Linked DNA regions of Homo sapiens: all the other regions are linked to region 3. The links come from fine-mapping of genetic effects on gene expression. A gene starts in region 3. Each other region holds a variant in brackets. All regions are shown on one strand. Distances are from middle to middle. Region 1 has its middle 25 kb from the start of DUSP2. Region 2 overlaps LMAN2L (lectin, mannose binding 2 like). Region 3 holds the start of LMAN2L (lectin, mannose binding 2 like).

Evidence for each region. PIP is the estimated chance that this variant, and not a neighbour inherited with it, causes the effect.
Region 1: its variant is fine-mapped to the expression of LMAN2L in whole blood (TOPMed, PIP 0.96).
Region 2: its variant is fine-mapped to the expression of LMAN2L in whole blood (INTERVAL, PIP 0.92).

What each region holds. Positions count from the first base shown.
Region 1 is chr2:96,166,061-96,174,246 of GRCh38, forward strand. No RefSeq gene overlaps it. Among named protein-coding and RNA genes, the nearest start is that of DUSP2, 25 kb to the left of the region's middle. The variant GC/G (reference allele first, on the strand shown) is at 4,772.
Region 2 is chr2:96,713,846-96,722,031 of GRCh38, forward strand. The region is part of intron 4 of LMAN2L (lectin, mannose binding 2 like); the gene reads right to left. Among named protein-coding and RNA genes, the nearest start is that of LMAN2L, 22 kb to the right of the region's middle. The variant T/C (reference allele first, on the strand shown) is at 3,425.
Region 3 is chr2:96,736,083-96,744,268 of GRCh38, forward strand. LMAN2L (lectin, mannose binding 2 like) reads right to left here and starts at 3,982. Exons shown (of 8, transcript NM_030805.4): 1 at 3,772-3,982; 2 at 1,867-1,985. The coding sequence starts at 3,958. RefSeq lists enhancers at 2,358-3,297, 3,298-4,235.

The DNA.
Region 1 (8,186 bases), 570 kb before region 3:
TCTCTACTAAGAATACAAAAATTAGCTGAGAGTGGTGGCACATGCCTTTAATCCCATTATTTAGGAGGCTGAGGCAGGAGAATTGTTTGAGCCTGGGAGGTGGAGGTTGCAGTGAGACGAGATTGTGCCACTGAACTCCAGCCTGGGTGATGGAACAAGACTCTATCTAAAAAATAAAAAATAAAAAAAAAATAATGTAGGGAAAGCAACATGACACTATTGAGTAAAAACGGAGTATACTGGCTACCCCCATATTAGCAAATCTTTCTGTCTCTTTCCTCTTAAAAAACAAAAAAACAAAAACACATTTCCTATAATGTATATGGAATAAGGCGAGGGAGAAAATAATAGGGGAGTGAGACTCCCATTCTGCCTCGTACGAAATAAGAAATAATGTTGGAGACATACTAAATGTCATCTAAGACCCTTAACTCACACCACATATAAAAATTAACTAACTGGAACAGATCAAAGACCTAAATGTAAAATCTAAAATTATGCAATGTATAGAAGAAAAACATAGGAGAAAATATTTATATCTTGAACTGGACAAAGTTTTCTTAGAACACAAAAAAGCACAGGCAGGGTACGGTGGCTTACACCTGTAATCCCAGCACTTTGGGAGGCCGAGGTGGGCAGATCATGAAGTCAGGAGATCGAGACCATCCTGGCCAACATGGTGAAACCCTGTCTCTACTAAAAATATAAAAATTAGCTGGGTGTAGTGGCATGTGCCTGTAATCCCAGCTACTCAGGAAGCTGAGGCACGAGAATCATTTGAACCCAGGAGGTGGAGGTTGCAGTGAGCTGAGATTGCACTACTGCACTCCAGCCTGGCAACAGAGCGAGACTCCATCTCAAAAAAAAAAAAAGAAGAAAAAAAATCACACACACAAAATATAAACAATTGATAAGCTGAACTTTGTCAAAATTAAAACCTTTTACTCTTTGAAAGACACCTTAAAAAAACAAAAGGCCTGCTGGATGCAGTGACTCACACCTATAATCCCAACACTTTGGGAGGCCAAGGCGGCAGATCATGAGGTCAGAAGACCAGACTGGCCAACACAGTGAAACCCCATCTCTACTAAAAATACAAAAATTAGCCAGTCATGGTGGTGCACGCCTGTAGTCCCAGCTACTCAGGAGGCTGAGGCAGGACAATCTCTTGAACCTGGGAGGCAGAGGTTGTGGTGAGCCGAGATCATGCCACTGCACTCCAGCCTGGGCAACGGATCGAGACTCCATCTCAAAAACAAAACAAAACAAAACAACAACAACAAAAAAAGGCAAGCCACAGACAGGGAAGAAAATATTACCAACACATATATCAGACAAATGATACACATCTACACATCTAAAATATATAAATACACAACTCAACAATAAAATGACAATCTGATTTTTAACTGAGTGACGGTTTTGAATAACCATTCCCTCAAAGAAGATATGCAAATGGCCAATAAGCACATGAAAAGATGCTCAACATCATTAGTCATTAGAGAAATGCAATTCAAAACCACAATGAGATAACATTTCACACACATGGGGATGGCTAGAATAAAGAACAACAAATGTTGTTAAGGATGTGAAGAAGGTGAAACCCTCACAAACTGCTGGTGTGAACGTAAAATGGTGCAGCTGCTTTGGAAAATAGTTTGGTGATTCCTCAAAAAGTTAAACATCCATTAACCATGTTACAGGTAGTTAGACAGACGTGAGCCGGGCAGAGAGGACTCTCCCTCAACCCACTAGGAATGTTGGGTTGTGGTTCGGCAGTTATTGCATTGCCTCTCTAACAGTGATAAATTGGCAGCTGGTGCCAGGGAGAGCCCATTTCCTGATGGTCCACACCTGTTGCACTAACGTATTAATTAAATGCAGGTGCCAGGGAGAAGTAACTTCCCAGGCATATGCATTAAGAGACAAAATGATGGACCTCCTGGGGGCACCCCACCAGAAAAGGGAAGAAAGCCTCAGATGGGCATGCACACAACTTCCTAAACACACTGCCCCTGCTCACTTCCCAAGGGTAAGGAGGGCACTGCGCATGCGGGAAGCCCACCTGAGAGAAGAATCATGGGAAAGGGGCACAAGACGCCATAAGTGGGCCAGCCTATAAAGTCCTAGGATCAAGGTTAAACATCACACTTGTTCTTCAAGTTCCCGGCTTGGGCCTCTTCCAAGCTTGCTTTCCTTTCTTTCCTGTTTTAAAGGCTTCTAAAATAAACTTCCATTCCTGCTCTGAAAATTTGCCTTGATCTCTTTTTCTGCCCTCAGTCGAATTATTTCTTCTGAGGAGGCAAGAATTGAGGTTGCTGCAGACCCATACAGATTTGCCAGTAACTCTGATACCTTCCACCAGTAATAACCATATGACCCAGCAATCCCACTCCTACTTATACCCAAGAGAATTATAAACATATGTCTATACAGAAGTGTGCACATGAGTGTTCATCAATGGTATTATTCATAATAGCCAAAAAGTGAAAAACAACCCAAATGCCTAGCAGTGAATGAATGGACAAAATGTGGTATATCAACACAGCAGAATATTATTCAGCCCAGTGGCTCACGCCTATAATACCAATATTTGGGAGGCTGAAGCAGGCAGATAACTTGAGGCCAGGAGTTCAAGACCAGCCTGGGGAACATGGTGAAACCTCACAGCTACTAAAAATACAAAAATTAGCCAGGCGTGGTGGTGCATGCCTGTAATCCCAGCTACTCGGGAGGCTGAGGCATAAGAATCACTTGAACCCAGGAGGCAGAGGTTGCAGTGAGCCAAGACTGTGCCGCTGTACTCCAGCCTGGATGACACAGCGAGACTCTGTCTCAAAAAAAAAAAAAAATTATTCAGCCATAAAAGGGAATGAAGCATGTATCAGTAGATACATGCTATAATATGGATGAACCCTGAAAATCTTAAAAATGAAAGAATCCAGTCACAAGAGACCACATATTATATGACTCTTTCATATGAAATGTCCCAAATAGGCAAATTCATAGAGACAGACAGTAGATTAGTGGCTGCCAGGGGCTGGGGAGAGAGGGGTAAAGGGAGTGGTTGCTAATGAATCTGGAATTTTTCTGAGGGGTAATGAAAATGTTTTGGAATTAGGTCATGGTGATGGTTTTATAACCGTAAATGTGCTTAAAAACCACTGAATTGTATATATCTTAATTTTTAAAAAAGGAGAAAAATAGAAATACTCGTGTCAAGACAAACAACCCAATACAAAATGAGCAAAAGATTTCAAATGACACTTCACAGGAAGAAGTTTTATGACCACCAATAACCACATAAAAAGATGCTAAACATCATTAATCACTGGGGAGATGCAAATTAAAGCCATAATGAGAAGACAGATCACAAAACATTTTGGCAAGGAGATGGGGCAACTGAAACTCTTATACACTGCTCATAGGAATATAAAATGAGGCAACCACTTTGGAAAACAGTTTGGCAGTTACTTTAAAATATTTGAGGCCGGGCACAGTGGCTTGTGCCTGTAATCCCAGCACTTTGGGAGGCCGAGGCGGGTAGATCACCTGAGGTCAGGAGTTCAAGACCAGCCTGGCCAAGATGGTGAAACCCCATCTCTACTAAAAAAAAAATCACAAATTAGCGGGGTGTGTTGGTGCACGCCTGTAATCCCAGCTACTTGGGAGGTTGAGGCAGGAGAATCACTTGAACCCAGGAGGCGGAGGTTGCAGTGAGCCGAGATCACGCCACTGTACTACAGCCTAGGCAACAGAGCGAGACTTCGTCTCAAAAAATAAAAAATAAATAAATAAATATTTGAACATACTTTTACCATGACTCAGGCATTTCATTCCTCAGTATTTACCTTAAAAAAAAAACCTAAAATATATATTTACACAAAGACTTGTACACAAATGTTTACAGCAGCTCTATCTATAATCCTCCCAAACTGGTAACAACTCAAATGTTCCTCAACAGGTACATGAGTGAACAAATTGTGGTACATCCATTCAGTGGAATAATACTCAGCCATGAAGAGGGGTGAACTACTGATAAACACAACATGAACGATCATAGAATCATTATGCTGAATTCAAGAAGCCATAAACCACACTACAGCACATACTCTAAGATTCCATTTATATAAAACTCTATAAAATGCAGACTATTCTATGGTGGGTATGCTCAGACAGGGCAGGGGAAGACTTGCAAGGGGTATAAGGAAACTTTTGTGGGTGATGAAATGTTCATTATCTTCATCGTGATGATGACATCACAGGTATATCACATGTGAAAATTTCTCAGGTTGTGCATTTATTTAATGAATTTAAGTAAAATTTATTAGGTTGTGCATTTTAAGTACATGCAGCTTACTGTACTTTGATTATACCTCAACAAAGTCAATGAATAAAAACTACTTAATAAAAAAAGTGAGGACCTAGGTAAAGATGACAGTGGTTACCCCCTGAACCCATGCTTGACAGCAAAGAAGGTGAAGCAAAAGGCAAACCCCACACAATCAAGGAGAAAGGAAAGAAACAGGAAACATTTTTGGAAGGTGGAAAGTATATGGTCAAAATGGCAAATGGCTTAAGACAAAGAAAAAACTGAATTCCTAGCCAGTAGTGGGGACAGTTAAGAGCCAATCCAGTTTACCCAGTGGAATGCCCAAAAGGCTCAGGCTCAGTGAGGTACCATGTTGGGTGAAGAGAAGGGATAGACTAAGAACCAGCTGAAGGTTTGTGTAACAGCCAGCCAGCCTACCCTATAATGAGGTCATGGCCG[GC/G]CGCTCACATGCTGAGAACCCCCAGTCAGAGTTTCTTAATAAGAACCAACAACCAACAGCCAAGGAAAGCCTCAATCACAAAGGAGAGGCCACTAACAGGAAAAAGTAACTTGGAGGAAACATCGTGCAGGAAGAAAAAAAATTAACAAAAATCACTCCCATCCTCAGAGAGGGAAGATACTGTACCCATAAAATAAGAACAGTTGCCACAAAGAGCAAACACTCAGAAAATAGGTCTCCAGTTATTAAAAATAAGAAAGCAGAAATTTAAAACTCAATATCAGGCTGGAGGTGGTGGCTCACACCTGTAATCCCAGCACTTTGGGAGGCCGAGGTGGGTGGATCACTTGAGGTCAGGAGTTCAAGACCAGCCTGGCCAACATAGTGAAACCCCGTCTCTACTAAAAACACAAAAATGGCCGGGTGCAGTGGCTCACGCCTGTAATCCTAGCACTTTTGGAGGCCGAGGCGGGCGGATCACGAGGTCAGGAGATCGAGACCATCCTGGCTAACACGGTGAAACCCCGTCTCTACTAAAAATACAAAAAAATTAGCCAGGTGTGGTGGCAGGCTCCTGTAGTCCCAGCTACTCGGGAGGCTGAGGCAGGGGAATGGCATGAACCTGGGAGGCGGAGCTTGCTGTGAGCCGAGATCACGCGACTGCACTCAAGCCTGGGCAACAGAGCAAGACTCCGTCTCAAAAAAAAAAAAAAAAAAAAAAAAAAAGCACAAAAATTAGCCAGGCGCGCCTGTAATCCCAGCAACTCGGGAGGCTGAGACAGGAGAATCGCTTGAACCTGGGAGGCCCAGACCCCGCGGGAATTGAAATCTTACCACACCTGCTGCAGCAGCAGAGAGAGAGATCCCAATTGCCAGAGAGGGTGAGTGGTTTTGTTTATTTTGTTTTGTTTTGTTTTGTTTTGTTTTGTTTTGTTTTTGAGACGGAGCCTTGCTCCGTCACCCAGGCTGGAATGCAGTGGCGCTGTCTCGGCTCACTGCAACCTCCCAGGTTCAAGCGATTCTCTCGCCTCAGCCTCCGGAGTAGCTGGGACTACAGGCGTGCGCACCACCACACCCAGCTAGTTTTTGTATTGTTGGTGGAGATAGGGTCTCACGATGTTACCTAGGCTGATATCCAACTCCTGGTCTCCAGTGCTCCACCTATCTAGGCCTCCCAACTGCTGGGATTACGGGCGTGAGCCACCGCGCCAGCGAGGGTGGTTAGTGGTAAGGACACAACAGGGCCAGGCATGGTGGTAGGTGCCTGTAGTCCCAGATACTCAGGAGGGTGAGGCAGGAGAATCGCTTGAATGCGGGAAGCAGAGGTTGCAGTGAGCCGAGATCGAGCCATGCACTCCAGCCTGGGAGACAGAGTGAGACTCCATCTCAAACACACACACACACACACACACACACACACACTCACAAAACCCTGGAAGACAGAGTGAGACCCCATCTCAAAAACAAAAACATACACACACACACACAACCACAACCCTGGGAGACAGAGTGAGACTCCATCTCAAAAACACACACACACAGAGAGAGAGAGAGAGAGAGAGAGAGAGAAAGAACCCTGGGAGACAGAGTGAGACTCCATCTCAGAAACAAACACACACACAAAACCCTGGGAGAGTGAGACTTGGTCTCAAAAACAAAAAAACACACACACAACCACAATCCTGGGAGACAGAGACTCCATCTCAAAAACAAAAAAACACACACATACACAACCACAACAAACTAAATAAATGAAAAACCAAGTACTGGCTCTAGGAAAACAAAAAGTCGTGCTAGAAAACAGTGTAGTGTCTTGCCTGTGATATTTCCATGCTCGTAATACTGTAAATGCTAAATAATACTGTAACTAATTCAGTATAATTAAGTACTCTGGGACAAAGAGGGGATAAGGGGGGCAAGGAGGGGAAGGAAGAGCTAAGTCATTGCGAGGGGGTGGGGATGGGAAGAAAGAGCGAAGTCTTCATATAATGCCTAAAATGAAAAAGCAAGGAGGGGCGAGATAAGCACATTATTTAGAGACCTGGAGATAAATATCAATATAATATGCTGGGAGAGGTGAAACTGGCTGTCCCTGGGGAGGGGAGATGGTGGGAGGAGTTTTCATAACAAACTTTAAGAACGATTTGACTTTTTTTTTTTTTTTAGACTGAGTCTCACTCTGTTGCCCAGGCAGAGGGAGTTCAATGGTGCCATCTTGGCTCACTGCAACCTCCGCCTCCCTGATTCAAGCCTCCGGAGTAGCTGGGGTTACAGGTGGCATAAGCCATAGTGCCCGGCCATGACTTTTCCAACTATGCGCACAAATATTTGGATAAAAACTAAAAATGGTTTTTTAGTTTTTTGGGTTTTTTGAGATGGAGTCTTGCTGTGTTGCCCAGGCTGGAGTGCAATGGTGCGACCTCAGCTCACTGCAATCTCTTCCTCCCAGGTTCAAGCGATTCTCGTGCCTCAGCCTCCCAAGTAGCTGGGATTACAGACGTGTGCCACCACGCCCAGTTTATTTTTGTATTTTTAGTAGAGAATACTAAAGAGTGCTGAGATTACAGGCGTGAGCCAACGTGCTCAGCCAGAAAAAATGTTACGTACAAATACAAGTGGAGAAAAATACACTGATGCTCTGGGTTGTACAGATTATGTAATTTTTCTTTATATTTTTATGTGTAAAAGAAATGCTTAAGTTAGGCCAGGCGCAATGGCTCATGCCTGTAATCCCGAGCACTTTGGGAGGCCAAGGTGGGTGGATCACCTGAGGTCAGGAGTTCAAGACCAGCCTGGCCAACATGGTAAAATGTCTCTACTAAAAATACAAAAATTAGCCGGGCGTGGTGGTGCGCACCTGCAGTCCCAGCTACTGGGAGGGCTGAGGCACGAGAATTGCTTGAACCTGGTAGGTAAAGATTGCAGTGAGCCACTGCACTCCAGCCTGGGTGATAGAGTGAGACTCCGTCTCAAAAAAAAAAAGAAATGCATAAGTGCATTATCTTTTAGCCTCTTAATTAATACTGTAGAAAACAAAAGAATATGAAGGCAAGATCCAAAGGAGTATCCAGAACATTCTGGGTGATGAACCAGCAGGCCGCTGGTGTAACTATGTTCGAGACAGTTGGTCTCAGGAACGGAGTCACAGCTCACCCAGTCCTACTCTGTCCTTGCTACACAGGACTGAGGCTTTGCTGGTTCTCGATGCTGGGCTGTGCAATTATGTCTAGGCCAGGGTTGTCTCCCCAGCTGCTTTATAATTCCTTTGAAAGTCCTAAAGCACACAGTGGGCCCTCAATAAGTCCTTGCTGATTATCACCCCATCACACCTTCTTTCCTAGGCACAGAAATACAGGAAGCAATAATGAGTTTCATAAGAAGTGGAGGAATCATAACAGGAGCATTGGAACATCA
Region 2 (8,186 bases), 22 kb before region 3:
GTATTAAGCTCTGCTCCAGCAAACAGCTGCAGTTCTAAGCCATTAGCGACAAGAGGTACCTACACAAGCTCAGCTCAGCTCTGCCCTGTGGGACAGGTAGGCGAGGGTACAGAACTCAAACCCTTCACTCCTTTAATACGGTGAACACCTACTACAAGCCAGGTACTGTTCCAGATGCTGAGGGTCCAAAGAGAAACAAGACAGACAGGAATGGAATTAAGATCAGAGTGGAAGAAACAAACAACAAAGAAGCAAATAAAATTATTTCAGATAGTGAAAAATGCTATAAGGAAAATAAAATAGGTAATACAAGGGATGGGCAAGGGAACCTCTCCCTGAGGAGGCAATATCTGAGCTGAGACTCAAGTAATTAGAGGGAGTCCACCAAAAGATCTGAGGGCACAAGAAGCATGAGGGTGGCACATTCAAGGAACTGGAAACAGATCAGTCAGAATCACAGCTTGTGAGAAGAGGCTGCCATGAGGCAAGGCAGCACCCACGGCACTGGGCTCCATGGGCCACAGCCAGGAGTCCGAGGCTGCAGTGCAGATCCCCTGCCGTCCTCCTCTTAACACCACTGGCAGAATTCATACAGGACACAGAAAGGCATGACATCAATCCGTGGATGATTAAACTGGCATGAAGTTAATCTTCAACAACTACCATTTAGAACAAGGAAATGGTGAGCATGTTATCAAGCAGTTTACAGAAACTGGCATCTGAGAGTATGCTCATAATTTCAGTGACAATTAAGAAAAAGGGATTAAAAATGCCCTGTGGAGCTCTGATGAGCCCAAGGCTTCCTTCACTCATCACCTCTAGTAACCCTGATTAGAAGTTTAAGTTGCAACTTTAAAGAGATAGCAATCTCCTATGTTAGCTTGCTTAGAAAATAAACAAATAATAAAGAGACAGCAATCCTTAGCCTAAGGGTGCCTTACTCTTCCCAAGGCTGGTGTGGACCCAGTTCCAGGTAACAGCCAGAGGCATGCTGGACCTTGGGAGCACCTGAAGGAGCTTGTTAACTGCACGTATACATGGGTCCCTCAGTCAAAGAGTCTCATTCGTATGGCTAGAGTGGGGTGCAGGATTGTTTTTTGTTTGTTTTTTTGAGATGGAGTCTCACTCTGTCACCCAGGCTGGAGTGCAGTGGCGAAATCTTGGCTCACTGCAACCTCCACCTCCTGGGTTCAAGCAATTCTCCTGCCTCAGCCTTATGAGTAGGTGGGATTACAGGCGCTCGCCACCATGCCCAGCTAATTTTTGTATTTTTAGTAGAGATGGGGTTTCACCATGTTGGTCAGGCTGGTCTCGAACTCCTGATCTCGTGATCTGCCCGTCTTGGCCTCCCAAAGTGCTGGGATTACAGGCGTGAGCCACCGCACCCAGCCAGGATTATGTATTTTTAAAAAGCACCACAGAAGGCTGTGATGTGCAGCCAAATTGAAGAAACGCTGCACCAGACAGGGAGCCTCACAGCTTTGCAACTACAGAGAATCTGTCTACTTCGGCAACACGAGTTGGCCTTCAACTTTTAACCTCACATTAGTGTAAGTCACTAAATGCCATCTTATTTTCTACGCCTAGTCAAGAGTTCCTGGAAGTATTTCTTGGATAACCACTAATTTCACACAGGAGCAATTTTGTTTTTCCCCTAGAAAGCACTCTGTAAGTTAGAACCAAAGATTGAAGAATCACACTGGTTCAGGCAAGGTGGTAGTTTTATTCCTAATTTAAGAGTCACCAGAAAGGAGAAACTCTCACCTGTTTTATCATCCAAAGGACTGTTGTTTAAAGGGTGGAGAAATGTTTTCAACTTTTTGTACTACAAGACTACTTTTAAAAAAGTGTTTTTTGAAGACCTCTACGGGATAACTGTATCTTCAGCATATTTCGATGGAAAAGACACCCATTAGCTTGTGGATTTATGGATTCTAGGCTAAAATTCCAAATGGCCTCTGTAATTAGGGAGACCTGAGTTCTAACTGCAGTTATGTCACTTATAGCTGTGTAACCCTTCGGTGGATTACATCACCTCTTTGAGATTCTATTTCCTCACTGTAAACAGAACAATACAAAGCTCACAGGGTTCATTATGAAGATGAAATGAGATATGCGAAGCATTTAGTACAATGTCTTGGTGTTCAGGAGGGAGTCAATAAACATTCAATCAGTGACTAGTGTATTTCTAGATACAAATATCGTTCACAGGTACTCATATATATATAAACACAAAGCCAAACATACATCTTCTAAAGCACGAATTCCCAGACCACTGGCTGTGATCAACCATTAATATTTCCAAAAATATTTTGGAGAGTATTAGATTTGGCTTCTTTTTATTGCCTACTAAAAATATTAAAATACAATAATGACAGAACAATCATCTATAATAAACATCATTTTACAAAGGGACACTTTAACACCAAAAGATGAGAGAGAACAATGTAATTTCATAATGAAACAACTGAATACATTTAGCACTTAAGAAAAAGAACTTCATTATTATGATTCTTGCACCAGTGAAAACTCTGTTACCACACAACTGGAGTTCATACACTGGCATCTAGGAGCCACTCTTTTAGAGCAGTGTTTCCATCTCAAACCATACCATTGTCTAGTAAGCTGACCATTTGCTTTTGGGAACCCAGATGTGAAGAAGTGAAGGAGGGGAGAGGAAGAGAGAACAGAACTAAGATGTTTGCAAAATGTCCCTTAGGAATCCACTGAATGGTGTGAATAATAGCTGGTGTTTATTGAGCACTTAGTCTGTGCCAGGCACTGAACTCAGTAATGAGCCCTTCTGCATTTAATTCTCACAATCCTATGAGGTAGTATCAGTACTCCTCATTTCACAGGTAAAAAACTTGTCCAGGATAACACAGGCATTAAGTAGTGAAATCAGGATTTGAAACCAAGTATTCTGGCTCCAGAGCCCTGACTCAATCACTGGGATACACTGCTTTCAATATCTCTCAATATGGAAAAATGTTTCATATGTATTATTTTTTTAAAATCAGGTCTAAACAGTATGTACTCTGAAGCACAAAGAGAACGCTGAGAATAGTTCCAGATTAAAGGAGAGTAACAACTGAATACAACACAGGATCTGGGACTTTCTTTCATTATAAAGGACATATTGGGACAATAGGTGAAATATGAATAAGGCCTGCAGATTAGATAATGGTATTGTTACAAATGTTAACTTCCTGATTTTGATCACTGTGCTGTGGCTACATAAAATAACTTTTTTTTTTAAACACACACACACACACAAGTATTTAGGATTAAGGAGACATCATGAGAGCAATTTACTCTTAGTTCAGAAAAAAAGACACACAAGCACAAACATACACGCAAGACACATACACACAGACACACACACACAAAGAAAGAGGTTAAAGAAAAGGATGGCCAGGTGTGG[T/C]GGCTCACACCTATAATCCCAGCACTTTGGGAAATGAAGGTGGGAGGATTGCTTGACCCTAGGAGTTTGAGACCAACCTGGGCAACATGGCAAAACCCCATCTCTACAAAAAGATAGCTGGGCTTGGTGGCATGCACCTGTAGTCCCAGCTACTTGGGAGGCTGAGATGGGAGGCTCTATTGAGCCTGAGAAGTTGAGGCTACACTAAGCTGTGATTGTGCCACTGCACTCCACCCTGGGTGACAAAACCAAACCCTGTGTCGGAAAAAAAAAAAAAAAAAAAAGGACGGCCAGGCGCAGTAGCTCACACCTGTAACCCCAGCACTTTGTGAGGCCGAGGCAGGTGGATCACCTGAGGTCGGGAGTTCGAGACCAGCCTGACCAACACGGAGAAACCCCGTCCCTATTAAAAATACAAAATTAGACGGGCATGGTGTCATATGCCTGTAATCCCAGCTACTCAGGAGGCTGAGGCAGGAGAATCGCTTGAACCCAGGAGGCAGAGGCCACAGTGGGCCAAGATCGTGCCACTATACGCCAGTCTGGGCAACAAGAGCAAAACTCTGTCTCTAAAAAAAAAAAAAAAAATAGGGACAAAGCAAATGTAGTAAAACATTAACATTTTCGGAAATCTGGGTGAAGAACATTCCAAAATTCTCTTGTTATATTTTTTCCCCCTAAAGGACCAACTTTTTTTTCTTTTGAGATGAAGTCTCACTCTTGTCCTCCAGGCTGGAGTGCAATGGCGCGATCTCGGCTCACTGCAACCTCCACCTCCCGGGTTCAAGCGATTCTCCTGCCTCAGCCTCCCAACTAGCTGGGATTACAGGCACCTGCCACCAAGCCCGGCTAATTTTTGTATTTTTAGTACAGACAGGGTTTCACCATGTTGGCCAGGCTAGTCTCAAACTCCTGACCTCAGGTGATCCACCCGCCTTGGCTTCCCAAAGTGCTGGGATTACAGGCGTGAGCCACTGTGCGTGGCCGGTTGTATTCTTATAACTTAATCATAAGCACAAAATTATTATCAAATAAAGATTAATCTGAATCTAGTATTTACCATACAATTTTTCTGCTTTTCTCAATTTTTCTATATATCTGCAATTTTTTAAACATTTAAAAAGGTTTTAAAAACAGTATTTACAACATGATACAATGTCTTTGTTTTTAAAGATGTTTGTACGCTTTTGTTTTTTCAGCATTTTCTAATTCTCCTGTAATGTATATAAAAATAATTAACAAAACAAATGCCTTCTACTAGATGCTACTAAATGTGAAGCATCTCCCACCACACCTCCATTTCATCCTCCCTGGGATCACTAGCGGAACACACTGTCACTTACACACGTAGACCTGTCACTTTTTCAAAGCTGTATAAGCTGCTGGTCCTACAATAATCTTCATCTAGCCCTTTATGCAGAAATCCAGACAAAGAGGAGACAATACCCATCCTATTTAAAGTGAAAAGAAGATCAGTGAGATTCGTTACACATTACTAGGCAGCCTGAGAAGGCCCTTGCTCTGTAAGCCCCCAGACTCCCACAAAGCTATGCTAGGGACTCTGTCCCCAGGACTCACAGCTTCTCAACTGGAGGACACAGAAAAGTGGCACTTCCAGGTCTGGAAACCTTCATATAATTGAATATCATCACGCTCTCTTAAGAAACTCACGGAATGATCTCAATCTCATTTATCTTAGTCCTCAAATCAAGTAATTTGAGGACTTCAATAAAGAGTACTCCAAAATCAGGAGACTAAATTTGAGGTGTGCCCCAAGCACTGACCTTTATAACCTACCCACCCAGATTACAAGTACCAAGTTTCAGAATAGAGCCCATTATGTATGTCTTTATTTCACTGCTGACCATCATTCTGATAGTATGTCAATACTTCTTGTTAATGAGAAGAGCCATCAATTCTATAGAACAGGAGATCTTCAGATCTCCTAAAATCATGTCAACTCTTCTGTGTACATGCCTCTTTCTTGGGTCCAACACTTTAATCAGAGTCTCGAAAGGGTCAAAGCCCAAAGAAAAGAACTAACCCAGGAATAAGCATCCTCTGGAGCACTGGCCCTTGCTTTCTTCCTTTCTCCCTCTTTCACTGTCTCAGAAAAGAAACATGTTAAAATTCTCTCTGCCAACAGTAAAGAGACCACTTTGGGATCAGTGTCTTCATCAAGACAAAGACTTAAGGGGACTGAGTGTGGTGGCTCATGCCTGTAATCCTAGCACTTCGGGAGGCCAAGGGAGGAGGTCACTTGAGTCCAAGAGTTCAAGACCAGCCTTGAAAACATAGCAAGACCGTATCTCTACAAAAAAAAAAAAATTTTTTTTCTTTTTTTGACACAGAGTCTCACTCTGTTGCCCATGCTGGAGTGCAGTGGCGTAATCTCGGCTCACTGCAACCTCCGCCTCCCAGGTTCAAACAATTCTTCTGCCTCAGCCTCCCAAGAAGCTGGGATTATAGGCATGCGCCATATCCCAGCTAATTGTTGTATTCTTATTAGAGACAGGGTTTCACCATGTTGGCCAGGCTGGTCTCGAACTCCTGACCTCAAGTGCTGGGATTATAGGCATTGGCCACTGCACCTGGCCAAAAAAAGTAAAAATTAACCTGGCATGATGGCCACCTGTAGTCCCAGTTATTCAGAAGGCTGAGGCAGGAAGACTGCTTAAGCCTAGGAGTTCGAGGCTGCAGTGAGCTATCACTGTGCCACTGCACTCCATCCTGGGCGATAGAATGCAAGACTCAGTCTCAAAAGAAAAAAAAAAGACTTGAGGAAATGTTTTTTTAACTGGATGGCATGGTATTGTTAAATTTTCTTCCAGTTCAAAGGAGGAAAAAACAATCATCACATCAAAAAAAAGTATGAGGAGTATCTCAAAGTATGGGGAATACCTCAAAAACAACTCCCAAGCTCTTCTCCCCACTCTCTAGCTATTTCTGCCTCCCCAGGGGTGAGGCCCAAACATCTCACAGAAAAGAATGAAGGCCAAGACCGCAACGGTTACACTCTGTGCTCTCATTCCAGGAAGGCCTCTTCTCATTCATTACGCTCTGATTTCAACGGAAGCACATTGTAGCTCCAAGATTGCTACTGACTTCCCTGCAACTTTTCACCAACATCTGGGTAGGTTTGTGTGAGAAAGTGATGATCATCAGCTGATGACTTGATAGTGCAAGATAATCAGGTTATCTTTACCTTTTTTTTTTTTTTGATTTTTTGTAGAGATGAGGACTTGCTATGTTGCCTAGGCTGGTTTCAAACTCCTGGACTCAAGCTATCTTCCTGCCTTGGCTTCCCAAAGTGCTGGGATTATAGGCACGAGCTACTGTGCCTGCCCACTGGTGATCTTTTAATCAACATTAAAAAATAACTACAATACAGCCAGGCGCGGTGACTCACGCCTGTAATCCCAGTGCTTTGGGAGGCTGAGGCGGGCAAATCACAAGGTCAGGAGTTCGAGACCAGCCTGGGCAACATGGTGAAACCTCGTCTCTACTAAAAATACAAAAATTAGCCAGGCGTGGTGGCAGGCACCTGTAATCCCAGCTACTCGGAATGCTGAGGCAGGAGAATCACTTGAACCTGGGAGATGGACGTTGCAGTGAGCCAAGATCACGCCACTGCACTCCAACCTGGGCGACAGGGTGAGACTCAGTCTCAAAAAAAATAAATAAAATAAATAACTACAACACTGAGATATAATTCACAGTCCACACAATTCACTTAAAGTATATAATTCAATGGCATTTAGTATATTCAGAGTTAAGATTATGATTACCACAACCAATTTTAAAACATTTTCATCACCCCAAAAAAAAATCTCATGCCCACTAGTAGTCACTCTCCTCATCTCCACCCCACATTACCCCAGCCCTAGACAACCACTAATCTACTTTCTGTCTCTACAGATTTGCCTATTCTGGACATTTCATATGCATGGGATCATACAATGTGTGGGTCTTTTGTGACTGGCTTCTTCCACTTAGCATAGTGTTTTCATGGGTCATCCATGTTGGAGCACATATCGATACTTAATTTCTTTCAGTCTTTTTTTTTTTTTTTTTTTTTTTTGAGACAGGGTCTTGCTATGTCACCCAGGCTGGAGTGCAGTGGTGTGATCAAGGCTCATTGCAACCTCGAGGTCCTGGGCTCAAGTGATCCACTCACCTTGGTCTCCTAAAGTGCTAGAATTACAAGTGTAAGCCACTGTGCCTGGCAATTACTCCTACTTTGTTTTTTTTTTGAGACAGTCTTGCTCCATCGCCCAGGCTACAGTGCAGTGGCAATCATAGCTCACTACAGCCTTGACCTCCTGGACTCAAGCAATCCTCCTGCCTCAGCCTGCAAAGTAGCTGGGACCAGCTAATTTTTTTTGTTTTTTGTAAAGATGGGGTCTCCCTATGTTGCCCAAGCTGATCTAAAACTCCTAGACTCAAGCAATCCTTCCACCTTGGCCTCCCAAAGTGTTGGGATTATAGGCACGAGCCACCACACCCAGTGATACTTATTTTCATTGCTGATATTTCCATTATAACAATATATCACATTTTGTTTATCCTCTAATCCAGTAGTCCTCAACCTTTTTGGCACCAGGGACTGGTTTCCTGGAAGACAATTTTTCCATGAACCGGGGAGTTGGAGGGGGGGTGGTTTCGGGATGATTCAAGCACATTACATTTATTGTGTACTTTCTTTCTTTTTTTTTTGAGACGGAGTCTCACTCTGTTGCCCAGGCTGGAATCCAGTGGCGCG
Region 3 (8,186 bases):
GCCCCTGGGAAGAGGGCAGAGTCACAGAAGTTCCCAGTGAGCCAAGAGGTGTCTGTCACTGATTCCTGGCCTCCTACAGCACAATGCTATACTGTTTTGCTCAGGACCATGTCTAATTGTGGTTCTGAAATTCTGCCACACACTGGATTCACCTACGGAGTTTTAAAAAATCCCAATGGCCAAGCTGCACCCTATTCCAATTAGATCAGAATCTCTGGGGATGAGACCCAGGCATTGATTCCAATGGATAGCCAAATTTGAGAACCACTGCTGAAACAAATGCATCCTATTCAAATAACTCAGAAACAAGCCCATAGTCATGGTGATAGCCAGATAACAGCGAATACAGGTATCAGAAGTCGAAAAAGGGAAGAACTAGAGGCTATACTAGAACTGCTGCTACAAGTTATGTAGAGACAGACAGCCAGCAAGACAGCAGCAGAGTATCAAGCCTTGAACATAATCATCCGGTAACCCACAAGAGCCCCATCAACAAACCTGTAGAAGTGTAATAACATAACACATATTTCTATAACCATTTTAACTTGCCACAGTCTTTTCATGTCTATTGTCCTATTTTATTCTCACGACAACCCCAGTGGGCAAGTAAAACAGGTATTCTGAAGCTCATTTATCAGATAGAGAAACAGAACTAAGAAGTTAAATAATCTGCCTAGGGCTCACAGGAGGACTGTGACAGAGCTGGACCGAGAATCCCAGTCTTTCAACTGTCCTTTATCTCTGCTACGAAAACACAATGCTCTGTACTCTGTCCAAAAATGAGCTCGGCACTATGATCTAGGTTAAGGGGCCAGTTTGTGCAGATAGCTAATGTAGAAATTTCTCTTGCCCTCCTGAACAGGGAAAAGAAATCGTTCTCTTTTCTGAGATTCGCTTATCTACAACTAATGAGAAAAGCCACGTAAAAAAGTAAGTTCTTAGTTTAAGAGAATTCCAGAGAAAGTATCAAAGGATGCCAGAGTCATGCCCAAAAGTAAACTGGTCGTAAAAGATTTAGAAAGCCCTGGAAACAGAAAAGAAAGCATCATCTTACACTTGTACAAAATCACAGTGCAGCCACACCAGGAATACTGCATTCACTTCTTGTCGCCATACCTCAAGGAAGACAATGCAGCTAGAAAAGGTCCAGAGAAGGACAAATAAAATGACCAACAGCTCAGAGTGGCTTTCACATGAAAATAAAATTTTATATCAGACTCTTCAAATTGAAATAACAAGATGGGGATGCTGGGATAAGGTTTGGGATCAATTTAAGAGTACTCTCAACCAGGACCGGTGGCTCACACCTATAATCCCTGACCTTTGGGAGGCCAAGGCAGGAGGATTGTTTGAGACCAAGAGTTTGAGACCAGCCTGGGCAACATAGCAAGACCCCATCTCTACAAAAAACGTTTTAAAAATTAGCCAGGTGCAGTGGCACATGCCTGTAGTCTCAGCTACTCAGGAGGCTGAGGCAGGAGGAGCCCTTAAGCCCAGGAGTTTGAGGCTGCAGTGAGCTATGATTGTGCCACTGCACTCTGGTCTTCTTATAATCTTCTTACAAAGTGGTTAAGCAGGAGTTAAGTTATTATTAAACCCTAAGAAGTAGTACTATTGGGCCAATCAGGAATTAACGACATTTCAGGAAAAAAAAATGAATTATTTGCTATAATTAAATAGAGAGCATTTTCCTAAATACCTGATTTATTTATTATCAAGGTCAGAATAATCTCAAAAATAAAGATCCTTGATATCCACAGAAGATAGAATACCAGGGGGATAGACAGTAAAATTAAATCAGTATGCCACTGCTGAACTTTTTAGGCCTTTCTGGGTCACCAACACAGGAGGGAGAAAGATTCTTACCACCCGGTTCCACAAGGCACCCTGTTTACTTTGCATATCTGGGGTAAGGCGGATATACTGGGTCATCACCATGGCATTGCCCATCAGATTCCACAGTGAGGAACTGCCTGTGCCCACACCTACAGGAAGGAAGTAGATCAGTTCATACTTTTCAACACCAATCCATTCAGAAAGCAGCCACCACAGAGCCTCTGAAAGCTGAGCCATCATCTTTTTCCCCCTTTAATGTCACTCAATCTCCTATCTTCTCTCAGTCATGAATCTTACCATCTCTACAGCTTTCACAAGGCCTTTATCAGGTAAGGACCCCAAAGCACATCAGAACTCTCACTTTATGCATGTTACAGTAACCATAGCTCACATCCATTCTTCCCGTTTTATATGTGAGTAAACTTCAGCATCGTAAAAGAAAAAAATTTTCCTGAGTTATATCAAAAAGAGTTTGACAGGCCAGGTGCAGTGGCTCACCCATGTAATCCCCACACTTTGAGATGATGTGGAGGGAGGGCATCTTGAGGTCAGCAATTTGAGACCAGCCTGGGCAACATAGAAAGACCCTGTCTTTACCAAAAAAAAAATTAGCCAGGTGTGGTAGTCCTTGTCCATAGTCCTAGCTACTCAGGAGGCTGAGTTGGGAGCATCGCTTGAGCCCAGGAGATTGAAACTGCATGAGCCATGATTGTGCCACTGCACTCCAGCCTAGGCAACGGAACAAGACCTTGTCTCTAAAAATATATAAATATAAATAAAAAGAGTTTGACCCTCAGGCCTCCGGGGCTTAGTCACATTCTTCCTTTTTTTTTTTTCTTTGAGATGGAGTCTCGCTCTGTTGCCCAGGCTGAAGTGCAGTGGCATGACCTCGGCTCACTGTAAGCTCTGCCTCCCGGGTTCACGCCATTCTCCTGCCTCAGCCTCCTGAGTAGCTGGGACTACAGGCGCCCGCCACCACACCTGGCTAATTTTTTTGTATTTTCAGCAGAGATGGGGTTTCACCGTGTTAGCTAGGATGGTCTCAATCTCCTGACCTCGTGATCCGCCCACCTCGGCCTCCCAAAGTGCGGAGATTACAGGCGTGAGCCACCGCCCCAGCCGTCACATTCTTTCTTTAAACAATCCTTAAAGTGTGAAGCTACTCCCTGTACCCTCACCTATAAACTTCTTTAAGAATGAAAACTTTGTGTCTGCAAACCCATAAGCATTAGCAAAGAGACAGCACAGAGGCACTCCAGGCATGTAAGTGAATAAATGATTACCCTTAGTAGTAGAGTATACTCTTGCACTTTGAATTGTTTTCTGTCCCACTACCTACGCCTTAGTGGGGAAAGACTTGTGTTAGTTAAGCCATCTGCACTGGTTTGTCATCGTTTTGTGGCTAACTGCATTAATTTTCTGGCTGATAAGCTGTGCTTAGAGTTCTGTGAACCCTAACCTCTTTCACCAACAGGGCCCCTAGGCTGGAGAAGAGAAGGTGGTTCTACCCAGCAACATAAATTTATCATCTTCTCATTTCGTTCAAGTTCTACCCCAGTTCTTCCTCCTGCTTTATTTCTAGCACATCCACAGGTCCATCTGGAGACTGGCTCATTGCTAGTAGCCCTCAATCACTCCTCACCATTCTCAATTCTCTCCCCTTCCCAAACTCCTCCTGTCTAACTCCAGGCCTAGTACTAGTGGCACCCGACAGCCCTGCCTTTACCTACTGGAAACTTCCAGAGCTTGGCAGGCACACCTAACTCCTGCCTTTCAGACCTGTGGCTCCCAAACGCGGAGGGAGTCTCCGTGGGCCCCACCACCGCCAGCAGTTTCCTCCGGGCCACGAAGCCCTTCGCCGCCCCCGCCTCTACCCCTGAAATCAAGTCCCGAAGCCCGCCCCACTGCACGACCACCTCACCCTGGGCGCCTCACCCTGGTAGGGCTTCGACAGCGAGTGCTCCCGTTTCAAGTACTCGAACGTTTGACCCGCCCCGACTTGCTGTGGCCCCTGCCCAGACCCCAACAAAAGAAGAAGGAGTAACATCCTGGACCCATCCCGAGCCGACAAACATCGCCGCCACTGCTGCCACGACCCAAGGGGTCCCAGAGTCGCCGCCATCTTTCCCACCAACGACCCTTCATCAAAAGCCCGCCCCGTCGCCCAACCCATTGGCCCGAAGAGCCATCTGCCCTGCGTCCTATTGGCTTTCGTCAAGCCCCCGCCCCTGCAGGTGACTATATCACCGATTGGCTGGCTTCTGTATCAGTTGCCTTGCCAACCCAGAAAAGGGGCGTAGCCGAATGCCCAGCCCCCCCCCTTATTTGCATTTGCCCTGAGTTCCACTAGGCTTGCTGGGATACGTAGTTTATTTGTATTTTGTTTTCTGCGTACGAGAGTAAATTTAAAGAGATAAAACGTTTCTTCTGGTCCCAAACATTCTATCCTCTCTGCAATAGTACGCTCCTGACTGCAGCTCTCTGAATCAATTTGGAAGATATAGCAGTGAAAGGAGAAATAGACAAATCCGTAAAATAGCTGGAAAACTATCAATTTATAAAAGACTTGAACAGCACTACCAACTAACTTGACCTGATGATATTTATAGAAACTCCACCTAACAACTGCGGAAGACACATTCTCTTCAAATGCAAATGACTCCTTTGCCGTGATAGTCTGGGCCATCAAGCAACCTACAGATATAAAAGAACTGAAAGCACACAAATTAATTAATTCTAAAAGCCATCACCTCCTTTCCTCCCTTCCTCTTTTTTTTCTTTTTGGTTTGAGACGAGGTCTTGGCCAGGCGCGGTGGCTCACGCCTGTAATCCCAGCACTTTGGGAGGCCGAGGCAGGCGGATCACCTGAGGTTGGGAGTTCGAGACCAGCCTGACCAAGGTGGAGAAACCCCGTCTCTATTAAAAATAAAAAAAAAAATTAGCCAGGCGTGGTGGCACGTGCCTGTAATCCCAGCTACTGGGAGGCTGAGGCAGGAGAATCGCTTGAACCTGGGAGGCAGAGGTTGCAGTGAGCCGAGACCAAGCCATTGCACTCCAGCCTGGGCCACATAGAGCAAAACTCCATCTCAAAAAAAAAAAAAAAAAGAGAGACAAGGTCTTGCTCTGTTGCCCAGGCTGGAGTGCAGTGGCACAATCTCAGCTCCAGCCTCTCCCTCCCTGGCTGAAGTGATCCTGCCACCTTAGCCTCCTGAGTTACTGGGACTACAGGCACATCCCTTCGTCTTTATCCGGCACCACAACATGTGTCCAGACTGGTCTCCACGTAGCCACTAAAGTGATCCAAACTATCTAACCATGGTAAGTGTCAGGGTTAAATGAGTCAATATTGGTAAACCTCTTAGAACAGTGCCTTGCGTGTAGTAAGCACTATTTCTTTCTTTTTTCTTTTCTTTTTTTTTTTGTTTTTGTTTTTGTTTTTGTTTTTGAGACAGGGTCTCTCTCTGTCACCCAGGCTGGAGTGCAGTGGCATGACCACAGCCTCAACCTCCTGGACTCAAGGGATCTTCCCACTTCAGCCTCTCAAGTAGCTGGGACTACAGGTGTGTGCCACCTCACCTTGCTAATTTTTATTTTTTGTAGCTATGGGGTTGTGGGGGAGGTCTCACTAAGTTGCCCAGATTTGTCTCATACTTCTAGACTTCAGTGATCCTCTCTCCTCAGCCTCCCAAAGTGCTGGGATTAGAGGTGTAAGCCACCGCACCAAGCCATAAGCGCTATTTCATCATCATCATTCTTATTAACCGGGCCTTTGATGGCTCACCATCACCTGTGGGGAGGAGATTCAAGCCCCTCAATTTGGCACACAAAGCCCCCTGCCATCTGGCCCTGGCCTTATTGCCCATGACTCTTTTCCTCCATCTTTATGCTCCAGCTTCCCTTCCCTCTTTTTTTTTTCTGCAGTCCACTTCCTTCTGGAGGTCCTTCTCAAACCTCTCAGGCAGGGTAGATTCTCCTGTCTGAGCTCTCAAAGTGTTCCATGCACATCTCATATAGAGCAATTGACAGATCTGTGTTTATGTCTTCCCAATAGACTTAACCAAAGTTAACACTCTCTTGCTTTCCTGAGCATGAATATATTTAATAAGATAAACATAATTATGAGCCTACTTTACAGGGGATCAACTTTTTAAAATTAAAGCTGTCACAGCTATTTTTTTTAAAGAGATGGGGTCTTGGCTGGGCACGGTGGCTCAGGCCTGTAATCCCAGCACTTTGGGAGGCAGGCGGATCACCTGAGGTCAGGAGTTCAAGACCATCCTGGCCAACATGGTGAAACCCCATCTCTACTAAAAATACAAAAAATTAGCCAGCCGTGGTGGCACACGCCTGTAGTCCCAGCTACTCAGGAGGCTGAGGCAGGAGAATCACTTGAACCCAGAAGGCGGAGGTTGCAGTGAGCCGAGACCGCACCACAGCACTCCAGCCTGGGCAACACAGTGAGACTTCGTCTCGAAAAATATATATATACATATATATACAAAAATTAAATGGGCGTGGTGGCAGGTGCCTGTAATCCCAGATACTTGGAAGGCTGAGGCAGGAGAATCACTTGAACCCAGGAGGTAGAGGTTGCAGTGAGTCAAGAAGATCCCACCACCATACTCCAGCCTGAGCAGCAGATCCGTCTCAAAAAAACAAAAAAAAGAAGAAATGGGGTCTCAATCCATCAGGCTGGGGTGCAGTACTGTGATCATAGCTCACTACAGTCTCAAACTGCTGGGTGAGCCTCAGCTAATTTTTAAAATTTTTTCTAAAGATGGGGGTCTCTATGTTGCCCAGGCTGGTTTTGAACTTCTGGCCTTAAGCGATCCTCCCACCTCATCTCTCAAAGTGCTGAGATTACAGGTGTGAGCCATGGTGCCCAGCCTGTCACTGCCATCAGTCTTTGACACCCTACAATGTCAAATGTCTGGTGCTAAGACTTTAGGAATTGCAATGAATCTGTTCGTGTCATACACTGGCTTTAAAACCATTCATAACTCCCAATTACCAAAATCCAAAGTCCTTAGTGTAGCATTCAAAGCCCTTTGCATCCTGACTGAAATCAGGCGCTACGCATGTGTACTGTAATGTGTGTCACCTGGAATTATGGAGCTCAATTAACAGATTATGGGTTTGTCTCCGCAGCAAGGCTGGGAGCTCCAGGACCACAGGAAGCAGGTCTTACTCATTTCCTAACTCAGGCCCCACCCATTTCCCCAACCCCAACCTATCACCCAGCACATAGTAGGGGTTCTAATTGTTTTGAATAAATTATTTCCATTGCATTTCTCTGCAAGATGAATTTTTAATTGTAGTAAAATGCACATAAAGGCCGGGCGCGGTGGCTCACACCTGTAATCCCAGCACTTTGGGAGGCCGAGGTGGGTGGCTCATCTGAGGTCGGGAGTTCGAGACCAGCCTGACCAACATGAAGAAACCCCGTCTCTACTAAAAATACAAAATTAGCCGGGTGTGGTGGCGCATGCCTGTAATCCCAGCTAGTTGGGAGGCTGAGGCAGGAGAATCGCTTGAACCTGGGAAGTGGAGGTTGCGGTGAGCCAAGATCGCGCCACTGCACTCCAGCCTAGGCAACAAGAGTGAAACTCTGTCTCAAAAAAAAAAAAGAAAAAAAATACATAAAATACAGCGTATAATTTTTAAGTACAGATGGTCCTCAACTTACAATGGGGTTACCTACAGAAAAACTAAACCCATCCTAAAGTCTAAAAATCCTAAGTCAAACCATCATTAAGTCAGGACCATGTGTGTTCAGTTCAAAGGCATTAAATTCATTCGCAGTGTCATGCACCCTGTCAGCTGAATTTCTGATAGATTGACACAAGCAGAAATCTCATTGTAAAATTCTGTGTGATGAGGAAAAGGGGAATAAAGGAGAAGGGTGTGAAAGGTGAGATGCACTGGACTATAAATCAAATCATTTTGTTCAGACTGTTGCAATAGGAAGAATGCTTATTAATGAGGAATGTATCAAAGAAAAGGAAGAGCCAGGCCCGGTGGCTCATACCTGTAATCCCAGTACTTTGGGAGGCTGAGGCGGGTGGATCATGAGGTCAGGAGTTCGAGACCAGCCTGGCCAATATAGTGAAACCCCATCTCAACTAGAAATACAAAAATTAGCCAAGCGTGGTAGTGCACACCTGTAGTCCCAGCCACTCGGGAGGTTGAGGCAGGAGAATCGCTTGAACCCAGGAGGAAGAGGTTGCAGTGAGCCAAGATCATGCCACTGCACTCGAGCCTGAGCAACAGAGTGAGACTCCATCTCAAAAGAAAAAAAAAAGGAAAGGAAGGACAGGCGGGGCTCGGTGGCTCACACCTGCAATCCCAGC